Regions from separate parts of the Homo sapiens genome. Here region 2 is linked to region 1. Evidence: fine-mapped expression QTL. A gene starts in region 1. The other region holds a variant in brackets. All regions are shown on one strand. Distances are between the middles of the regions.

Evidence for each region. PIP is the estimated chance that this variant, and not a neighbour inherited with it, causes the effect.
Region 2: its variant is the best candidate, but not a certain one, in a credible set for the expression of COX5A in whole blood (INTERVAL, PIP 0.62).

Annotation. Positions count from the first base shown.
Region 1 is chr15:74,935,048-74,940,414 of GRCh38, reverse strand. COX5A (cytochrome c oxidase subunit 5A) reads left to right here and starts at 2,342. Exons shown (of 5, transcript NM_004255.4): 1 at 2,342-2,500. The coding sequence starts at 2,401. RefSeq lists a silencer at 2,089-2,648.
Region 2 is chr15:74,886,641-74,892,007 of GRCh38, reverse strand. It overlaps MPI (mannose phosphate isomerase), which reads right to left and starts at 1,966. Exons shown (of 8, transcript NM_002435.3): 1 at 1,919-1,966; 2 at 1,354-1,481; 3 at 429-629. The coding sequence starts at 1,934. RefSeq lists enhancers at 1,640-1,719, 1,517-2,050, 1,840-2,139, 2,300-2,349. The variant T/C (reference allele first, on the strand shown) is at 3,228.

The DNA of each region.
Region 1 (5,367 bases):
TGCGATCTCGGCTCACTGCAACCTCCACCTCGCGGGCCCAAGTGATTCTCCTGCCTCAGGCTCCAGAGTAGCGTGCGCCACCACACCCAGCTAATTTTTGTATTTTTCGTAGAGACGGGGTTTCACCATGTTGGCCAGGATGGTCTCGAACTCCCGACCTCAGGTGATCTTCCCACCTCAGCCTCCCAAAGTGCTGGGATTACAGGCATGAGCCACCATACCTGGCCATGTTTCCTTTTCTCCTTTTTTTTAAAAAATTTTATTTTTGAGACGGAGTCTAGCTCTGTCACCCAGGCTGGAGTGCAGTGGTGTGATCTCGCCTCACCGCAACCTCCACCTCCTGGGTTCAAGTGATTTCTGGCTAATGTTAGTAATTTTAATAGAGATGGGGTTTCACCATGTTGGCCAGGCTGGTCTCAAACTCCTGACCTCAAGTGATCTCCTGGCCTTGGCGGCTCAAAGTGCTAGGATTACAGGCGTGAACCACCGTGCTCGGCCTTAATTTCTTTATGGCCAGCTGTTACATAGAAAGGCAAAGAGAAAGGTTAGAGCAATATTTTTAGGCTTTATGGCTGGCTTTGGGACAAAGGGGTTCTACTTTCTAGACCCCCTCTTGGGGAGGAGGGATTCTAGTTTCTGTGGCATGCCTGGAGGGAGAGTAAGGGGCAAGAGACAAGAGGGCAGAAGGTCAGAGAGAAACTGCTTCATAGGCCTTCACTTTGTGGTATTGTTTTCTAAGCCCCAGCACTAGGTTGGTGGGAAACGGTGAGGGCAGGTGCTTTGAAAACATTTTAAAAATCCTTTTCCCCGCCAGGTTCCTACCCACTGAAGCCACACTGCTAGGGAGGAAAAAGAGAAGGGCAGATGCTGAGGCCCTGGAGAGTCGGCCTGAAGTGAGGAAGTGGCACATGAATGGCCACCTTTTCTTTCCTCAGTGTGCCCAGGGATAGAGAATGGGAGACAGCAAGACAGAATACAATGTCTCATTAACTCTGGGCAGCATCCAGATACTTCAGGCCTGGGAGAGGTGTCCTTGACTGCCCAGGGGCTCAAAGTTAGGATGTAGCTAGTGAGATAAGATGCAACAACTGTGGAACTTGATCAACCCTATTTCAGAGCCATCGTGGATTCAGGAGCCCTCCTGTAGGAGATGGGAAACATTCAGGTGAGAGTCCTCAGAACTGGGGATGTGGCGAAAAGATCCTTGACTGCCAGCAGCAACCTAATTTCTGAGCCTCTTTCCTAATCTGTGAAATGAAGTAGTTTAACTCATTTTTTATGCAAGCTGGTTTGTGATATAAGAATATGTACTAATAAAATCCCTTACGCATAGGCCTTTTTTTTTTTTGAGATGGAGTTTTGATCTTGTTGCCCAGGCTGGAGTGCAATGGTGCGATCTCAACTCACTGCAACCTCTGCCTCCTGGGTTCCAGCAATTCTCCTGCCTCAGCCTCCCAAATAGCTGGGATTACAGGCATGCGCCACCACACCTGGCTAATTTTGCATTTTTAGTAGAGACAGGGGTTTCTCCATGTTGGTCAGGCTGGTCTCGAACTCCCGACCTCAGGTGATCCGCCCGCCTTGGGCTCCCAAAGTGCTAGGATTACAGGCGTGAGCAACCGCGTCCAGCGGCATTCTTTCCCCCATTCGCTGTTTTATTTTATGCCACAATGAGAAGGCGGGGCTAAGCAAAGTAGGTTTTTGTTTTGTTTGGTTTTTTTGAGACGGAGTTTCGCTCTTGTTGCCCAGGCTGGAGTGCAATGGCACCATCTCGGCTCACCGCAACCTCCTCCTCCTGGGTTCAAGCGATTCTCCTGCCTCAGCCTCCCGAGTAGCTGGGATTGCGGGCATGCGTTGCGCCACCACGCCTGGCTAATTTTGTATTTTTAGTAGAGACGGGGGTTCCTCCATGTTGCCCAGGCTGGTCTTGAACTCCCGACCGCAGGTGATCCGCCCGCCTCGGCCTCCCAAAAGTGCTGGGATTACAGGCATGAGCCACAGCGCCCGGGCGCAAAGTACGTATTTTTTATTATAGTTTGTTGTTATTGCTGTCATTCCTATTTTGAGGTGATTAAGTGCCCTCCTGGGCCTGACTCGAACAAGATCACGGTCGGTTGCTCCTCCCTCGCCTCCATTCCTACTTACAGGATGGCAGCTGCACGTCACCTGACCAGAGACAAGGCGGGACGCGAGGCTAACAGTTTGTCCTCAGCGCGCCGCCGTAGCCCCCGCCGCCGCCGGCCGCGCGGTGGCTCCTCCCGCCCACGCGCCAGAGTCGCAGTGGGCGGGCCTACGTGCTCCGCCCGCTGTGAGCCTGTCCGGCCCCCGCCCGCTCCGGAGCAACCCGCGAGCTTACACCGGCTTCTCTCTGTCCTCAGCCCGCGCGCCGCCATCGCCGTCATGCTGGGCGCCGCTCTCCGCCGCTGCGCTGTGGCCGCAACCACCCGGGCCGACCCTCGAGGCCTCCTGCACTCCGCCCGGACCCCCGGCCCCGCCGTGGGTAAGGCCCCTGCTTGCCACTGCCCGCGCCCTCGTGTCCTTGCGGTGACCTGGGTCCCCGCTGCCACTCCGGGGCGGGCTCTCCCCGGCCTAGCCCTTGCCCTACCCTGGTTACTGAACCCGGTGACCGCGGGCCGCCCTGCCCGCCGCCTCGAGTAGTGGAGGACCTGAAAGCGCGCCCCCGGGGCCTCCCCCCGCGCAACTTCCTGGCTGTGCCACCGCGGACAGGTCAGATGTGGACCTGCTGTGGGCGCCGAGGAGGGGACGCAGCGCTCCCCTTCGGTTCCCGGGCCATGACCCTGCCCCAGCGCCGACCCTGCGGCCACCTGACCGAGAGTGGCCGCCGCCGGCCTGCAGCGCCTCGGCGAAGGTGACATTGAGCCTCCGGGCACGCCGCTTGGGGTCCGAGGACACAATATACTTCCGTATGGGACACACGATTATACTTTTCAATCAGGCATTTCTCGGTTAGCGATTAGTGTGTCACCTTCACAGCCTTTTCCATCATTTTTAGGGTCTGCTGTGCCACGTTCTAATTCTTCCACGTTTAAAATAGATGGAAGTGTGTGGTTGTTTCCTGATCTCCGGAAGATAGCCAGAGTTTTGATAGGGCTTATGATAAAAATATCACTCTTTTGAAAACTGAATGTCACAGACACAGGAATACTGGGTTTTACAAGCATAGGAACGCTTCGTGTTTTTTCCCCTTTGTAATAGAAGCCTGATTGCTGGAGTATGAGACGTGCTTCTGATTTTTGTCTATTTTCCTTCCCTTTATATGTGTGCTGGGAGGTTTTGAGTCCACCACCATAGAATAATTACAGTAATTGCACTTCGATCTTGGTCCGTGAAATTTAGCTTCTATGCATGCATATTATATTTTATTTTTGAACCTGCATCACTGGCAACTATGCATGCGTATTTAAACATAAGAACTCAGAAACTCGTTTCAGGGTATGCTGAAGTTAAAAATTAAAAAAAGAACTCAGCCGGGCGCGGTGGCTCATGCCTGTAATCCCAGCACTTTGGTAGGCCGAGGCGGGCGGATCACCTGAGGTCAGGAGTTCAAGACCAGCCTGGCCAACATGGTGAAACCCTGTCTGTACTAAAAATACAAAAAATTTAGCTGGGTGTGGTGGTGGGCGCCTGTAATCCCAGCTACTCGGGAGGCTGAAGCACAAGAATCGCTTGAACCTGAGAGGCGGAGGTTGCAGTGAGCCGAAATCGCGCCATTGCACTCCAGCCTGGCCGACAGAGCGAGACTCCGTCTCAAAAAAAAAAAAAAAAAAAAAAGAATATGTTTTGCTTCATTCATTTTAGACTTTTATCATTTGTCGTAGAACCATAAGGCTGGAGGGTACTTTATTTTTGTTTATTTATTTATTTTTAAATTAGAGACGGAGTGTCCCTATGTTGCCCAGGCTGGGCTTGAACTCCTGGGCTCAGGTGATCCTCCCACCTCAGCCTCCCAAAGTTTGGGATTATAGGCATGAGCCACTGCAGCCAACCTAGAGTGTACTTTAGAGATCGTGGAAGCCATTTTATTTTATAGAAAAGGAAACCAAAGTCCATCTTGGGAAACTGACTCCTTGTTTTTTTTTGTTTGTTTGTTTGTTTTTGTTTTGTTTTGTTTTGTTTTGTTTTTTCTTGAGACAGAGTTTCGTTCTTGTTGCCCAGGCTGGAGTGCAATAGCACGGTCTTGGCTCAAGCGATTCTCCTGCCTCAGCCTCCGGAGTAGCTGGGGTTACAGGCACCTGCCACCATGCCCGGCTACTTTTTGTGTTTTTAGTAGAGATGGGGTTTCACCATGTTGGCCATGCTGGTTTCGAGCTCGTGAGGTCAGGTGATCCGTCTGCCTCAGCCTCCCAAAGTGCTGGGATTACAGGCGTGAGACACCACACCTGGCCGAAACTGACTCCTTTTTAATGGTGGAACCATTTTTGTTTCTTATAGTTATGTTTGGGCCATCCTGATGTTTGTTTAGATTTTGTGTTTTGCTAAAGTAACAGTACAATTTACATTTTTCAGCCGGACACGGTGGCTCACGCCTGTAATCCCAGCACTTTGGGAGGTTGTGGCGGGTAGATTACCTGAGATCAGAAGTTCCAGACCAGCCTGAACATGGCGAAACCCAGTATCTACTAAAAATACAAAAATTAGCCGGGTGTGGTGGCACGCACACGTGGTCCCAGCTTCTTGGGAGGCTGAGGCATTAGAATTGCTTGAACCCGGGAGGCAGAGGTTTGCAGTGAGCCGAAATCATGCCATCTCAAAAAAAAAATTTTTTATTTATTTATTTATTTATTTTTTTTTTTTGGTGATAGTCTCACTGTGTTGCCTAGGCTGGAGTGCAGTGGCACCATCACAGCTCACTGCAGCCTTGACCTCCTGGGACTCAACTGATCCTCCTGCCTCCACCTTCCAAGTAGCTGGGACCACAAGGGTGCGCCACCAGTTTTATTTTCCGTAGAAACAGGCTGGTCTGGGGACTCCTGGGCTCAGGAGTGCCTCCCTCCTCCCACCTTCCAAAGTGCTGGGATTACAGGTGTGAGCCACCATGCCCAGCCAAATTTTTCTTTTTCTTCTTCTGTTGTTGTGGTTTTGTTTTGTTTTTGTTTTTGTTTTTGAGACAGGGTCTCGCTCTGTCATGCAGGCTGCAGTGCAGTTGGCACAGCTCACTGCAGCCTTAACCTCCTGGGCTCAAGCCATCCTTCCACCTCAGCCTCCCAAAGTGCTGGGATTACAAGCGAGAGCCACTGCACCCAGCCTCAGTAACTCGTTAATGTGCCCTCATTCCTACAGTTACCACCACCAAAGTGTTCATTCTTTGGGCCTGTCAGGGTTGATTATTTATTAAATGGAAAACTA
Region 2 (5,367 bases), 48 kb after region 1:
AAAAAAAAAAAGGAGTTTTGATCCACAGTTGCTTAGGATGGGACTCCGGCTTGTGTAGGGAGACTCCATGGGGGTGGGGCTGAGGGTACCTGCCCTGCCTTGCAAGTTGAACTCTTCCTGAAAGCAGATGAGTAAATGGCAGATATGAATAGACATGGGTTGGATGAGGGAAGACCAGGAACAAGCCCCTTGGAATGAGCTTAGAGAAACTCCCCTGGCACAGGCCGGTGAGCTGTTTGCTTAGACTTAGTTGCTGCATGTGTCACTACCATCTGGCTTTGCAGAGCTAAATTGGGAGTTGTCAGCCTGGATTTGGCCTTGGGCAGGAGCCTGGCATGGGTGGGGTAAAAGTGGCAGTAAAAGTCACGGGAGGGCCTTAGCATAAGCCCTTCTGTACCCTGACCTCTGCACCGCACTCTGTCCTTTACCTTGTTAGGGTGTGCCTGGATGGACAGGGGTGTTTCAACTGAGAGCACTTTGAAGAGGAAGGGCAGGTTGCCATTAAAGGTGTCCTTGACCTTTGAGCCCAAGCTGTCCTGGTTCTCAGCAATCCACTGGCTTAGGGTCTTCTGTGAGATGCGGTTGTCAAGGATCTTGGCATCCCCTCGGGGGTGAGTCCCCATCCACAACTGGAAAGACAGGAAACTTGGGAGGGGAAGGGGGAAGAAACCTGCCACCCTGAGTTGGCCTGTCCCAATCCGTTATGCTGTGCTCCCCACAGGGCAACTGAGTCCTGGGAAAGGCCTCCCAGGTCTGGATACAAATGTTCATGCCATCATGGACATACAGGGAGGCAGTAGACCCAGGCCCTTGTCCAGACTCGGCCTCTAGCCATCTATGAAGACTTGGACTAGTTATTTCCCTTCTTTAGATGTATCTTCTTTGTCTGTCCAAAGAGGAGAATGACATCTGCACTGTCAAGGTAGCAGAAAAACTATGACTCTTAAATGATTCTTTCAGGGGTTAACATACATCTTCCAGTTTCAGAAGCAGAGGCGAAAGCCTTCCTATGCTTTGGCTTTTTCTCCACTAAATAGGCAGGAGAAATATTTTAGGTTAATAAAAATGCAAAAAAATAGTCAAAGTAAAAAAACTTAATTGTCAAAGAGGGCTGAATTAAAATTCACTAAGTGCTAAGAGTGGTTGGGGGAAGGAGAGTGCTGGAAATCCCAGCCTATTATGACAAAACCTCTCTTCTTTTTGATAACACTATCTAGTCCATTAGCCTGAAGAGCCAAGTGGGTCTCCTCCCTCCTTGCTGCCTCACCCTTCCCAGCTGATTCTTATGACTTGCCTCAGGCCCTTTCTCCTGACCTGCGGGTAAAGTGGGCTGAAATACAGCCCGGGGCTCACCTCTGCATAAGGCTTGTCCTCTGCGATCTGGGCCAGTGGATCACTGCTGGCCAACAGCCGCGCCACTTCGCTGTTGGAACCCATCTTCCCCCAGGCATACTGCTGCACCGCACAGGAAAGTGGGAATACTAGGGGCACAGACAGGGTCAGCTGCCACTCCACTCCTCAGGCCCCACCCTAGTGTCCCGGGAAACCAGGCAAGAGCTGGGGGTGCTCACTGGGGACAGAGTCAAATAAGGGTTTTGTAGGCTGTTGGATGAGACCCCCCTCCGCTGCAGGCCTCGATGTTCCCAACTGTCAGATGGGCAGCAGTAAGGACCTTGTGCTGATCTGAGGCAGGGTGGCGGGGAGGGAGCAGAAGGTACCTATCCCACGGCACGACGTCTAGAAGGGCCCCCTCCCCTCGGAGGTCAATCCCCATCGCAGGTGGCCACACCTCTGCCCGGCACCCACCCATCTTTCCGCGGAATGCCAGGAGCGGACTCAACCTGGCCGATAATGCCGGGAGTCGTCCCCAGGACGCGCTCCACGAACACACTCGCCGACACCCCAGCCAATGGCTCACCTCGCGGAGCGGCCATGCTCGCCCCCTGCACCAGGATTAAGCACGTATGCCTTTCCCGGCAGCCCCCGCGGCCCTCTGCGCCCAGAGCTTCACGGGAAATGTAGTTCCCTGAGCGTTCCGCCAGGCCCCGGGGCACCCGTGCCCAGAGGCTTACGGCCGCGATCTTCGGTCTCACTATTCATTCATTCTTTCCATCGCCGGGCACAGATGTACTGAAAACCTGCTAAGTACCACGGACTGTTCTAAGGGCTGGAGGATACATCAGAGAGCAAGATAGCCTTCCCTCTGCCTTTGTAGAGCGCTTACATTCTGGTGAAGGCAAGACAGACAAGTATTGTAAGCAAATCATGTAGTATGTTGAAAGGTCAAGGCCACAAAAAGTAAGGGGGCAGGTGGCAGTGGGAGGCAGTTTGCAGAATATAAAAGGCTGTCTGGGCAAGCCTCTTGAGGAGGTGAGGTTTGAGTCCAGACTTGGCGGTGAGGAAGGCAGGAGTGTTCTGCGGGGAGGAAACAGCCACAGCGGAAGCCAGAGCAAGGCGGGAATGTGGGACTGTGCCGGGCGTGTTGGGGAGGGAACTGCTAGCAAGGAGGCCACTGTGGCTGGAGCAGAGTGAGTAAGACAGGGGCAGTGAGGAGGTCAGAGAAGAGAGGAGGGGGGCAGAGCTTTGCAGGCTATTGCTATTGTGAAGACTTTGGGTTTTACTTCGAGTCTCAGCAATTACAGATTTGAGCAAAGAATTGCTGTGATGTGAGTAGGGACATACTAGTGATGATGATGGTAAATGTCACATGCAAGGCCCTTCACTGCTCTGAGCTTTGTAGAATGGGGTGAATAATGCCAGCCTGACATGCTTGTTGGAGGGTCAGATGGGATGACGTGAGACACCTATAAGGCAGTCAGCTCCCTGTGCTCCTCTGATCCTTCCCGTCCCAGGTGCTGTAGAAAGTCAGAACCCCAACTTCTACTCCAGGCTGAGCTGCTTACAAGTTGCACACACAGAAGTCAGGGGAATTACGAAGAGCTGTGCATAGGGAAGGATGGCCTTGGGCCTTGGCTCTGCAGTAATCTTGGCTATATCCTGTGGTGAAAGGCTTTGACATCCAGACCTTCTCAGTCAACAGCCTCCTAGGAGGAGGACAGTCAGTGGCTCAGGCCTGTAATCCTAGCACCTTAGGAGGCAGAGGCAGAAGGATTGCTTGAGGCTAGGAGCACAACAGTCAAAGCTCCGGGGAACCTGGAATGAGGAGTTACAGTCCTGACTCTACCCTCATCACCCCTGCAATACCCTCATTCCCACAGCCTCTACCA[T/C]ATGTGCCCAGGGGAAAGAGCGGGTGCCGTTTTCCCTGTAATCCTCTGCCCAGGTGTGGGTATCTATCTCACCTCCCCTGGGGTCCTCTGGCTCAAATAAATCAGCTTGCATTTTAAAGGAAGCTTTACCATGCACTAAGGAATAATAAAATGGATAATACAAGACTCATGACAGCCCCCCGCCTGGCCAGCCGCCCCGTCCGGGAGGGAGGTGGGGGGGTCAGCCCCCAGCCCGGCCAGCCGCCCCGTCCGGGAGGTGAGGGGCGCCTCTGCCCGGCCGCCCCTACTGGGAAGTGAGGAGCCCCTCTGCCCAGCCAGCTGCCCCGTCCGGGAGGGAGGTAGGGGGGTCAGCCCCCCGCCCGGCCAGCCACCCCGTCCGGGAGGTGAGGGGCGCCTCTGCCCGGCCGCCCCTACTGGGAAGTGAGGAGCCCCTCTGCCCGGCCACCACCCCGTCTGGGAGGTGTACCCAACAGCTCATTGAGAACGGGCCATGATGACAATGGCAGTTCTGTGGAATAGAAAGGGGGGAAAGGTGGGGGAAAGATTGAGAAATCGGATGGTTGCCGTGTCTGTGTAGAAAGAGGTAGACATGGGAGACTTTTCATTTTGTTCTGTACTAAGAAAAATTCTTCTGCCTTGGGATCCTGTTGATCGGTGACCTTACCCCCAACCCTGTGCTCTCTGAAACATGTGCTGTGTCCACTCAGGGTTAATGGATTAAGGGCGGTGCAAGATGTGCTTTGTTAAACAGACGCTTGAAGGCAGCATGCTCGTTAAGAGTCATCACCACTCCCTAATCTCAAGTACCCAGGGACACAAACACTGCGGAAGGCCGCAGGGTCCTCTGCCTAGGAAGACCAGAGACCTTTGTTCACTTGTTTATCTGCTGACCTTCCCTCCACTGTTGTCCTGTGACCCTGCCAAATCCCCCTCTGCGAGAAACACCCAAGAATGATCAATAAAAAAATAAAAAATAAATAAAAAAAAAAAAGACTCATGAAACAACGTACTCAATACCTCGTGCTTTGGAATACCACTCCTTTCCCTCATCTCCACTACCCAAGTGATATGATTTGGCTCTGTGTCCCCACCCAAATCTCATCTTGAATTGTAATCCCCACATGTTGAGGGAGGGACCTGGTGGGAGGTGATTGGATCATGGGGGTGGTTTCCCCCATGCTGTTCTCATGATAGTGAGTGAGTTCTCCCAAGAGCTGATGGTTTTAAAGTGTGGCACTTTCTCGCTCTCTCTCCTACTGCCATCTAAGATGTGCCTCGCTTCCCCTTTGCCTTCTGTCATGATTATAAGCTCCTGAGGCCTCCCCAGCCATGTAGAACTGTGAGTCAATTAAACCTCCTTTCTTTTTTTTTATTTTTTCTTTTTGAGTATTGAGTCTTGCTCCGTTGCCCAGGCTGGAGTGCAGTGGCATGATCTCAGCTCACTGCAAGCTCTGTTTCCCAGGTTCAAGTGATTCTCCTGCCTCAGCCACCCAAGTAGCTGGGTGCACACCACCATGCCCGGCTAATTTTTGTATTTTTAGTAGAGGCGAGGTTTCACCATTTTGCCCAGGCTGGTCTCGAACTCCTGACCTCAGGTGATCCACCTGCCTTGACTTCCCAAAGTGCTGAGATTACAGGCATGAGCCACCGCGTCAGGCCAAACCTCCTTTTTTTTTTTTTTTTGAGATGGAGTCTCACTCTGTCACCCAGAGTAGAGTGCAGTGGCACGATCTTGGCTCACTGCAACCTCCGCCTCCCGGGTTCAAGCGATTCTCCTGTCTCAGCCTCCCAAATAGCTGGGACTACAGGCACGTGCCACCATGCCCGGCTAATTTTTGTATTTTTAGTAGAGACGGGGTTTCACCATGTTGGCCAGGCTGGTCTCAAAATCCTGACTGCAGGTGATCCACCCACCTCAGCCTCCCAAAGTGCTGGGTTACAGGCATGAGCCACCATGCCTGGCCCAAACCTCCTTTCTTTATAAATTACCCAATTCAGGTAGTATCTTTATAGCAGCATGAAAACGGACTAATACACCAAGCAATAGGAACCTTCTCAGATAAGAACGAGGGACTAATGAGGCTCAAGGAGTTCTTGGAGCACTCCCCACTACCACTACCACAGAAAACAGAGTCAGGGT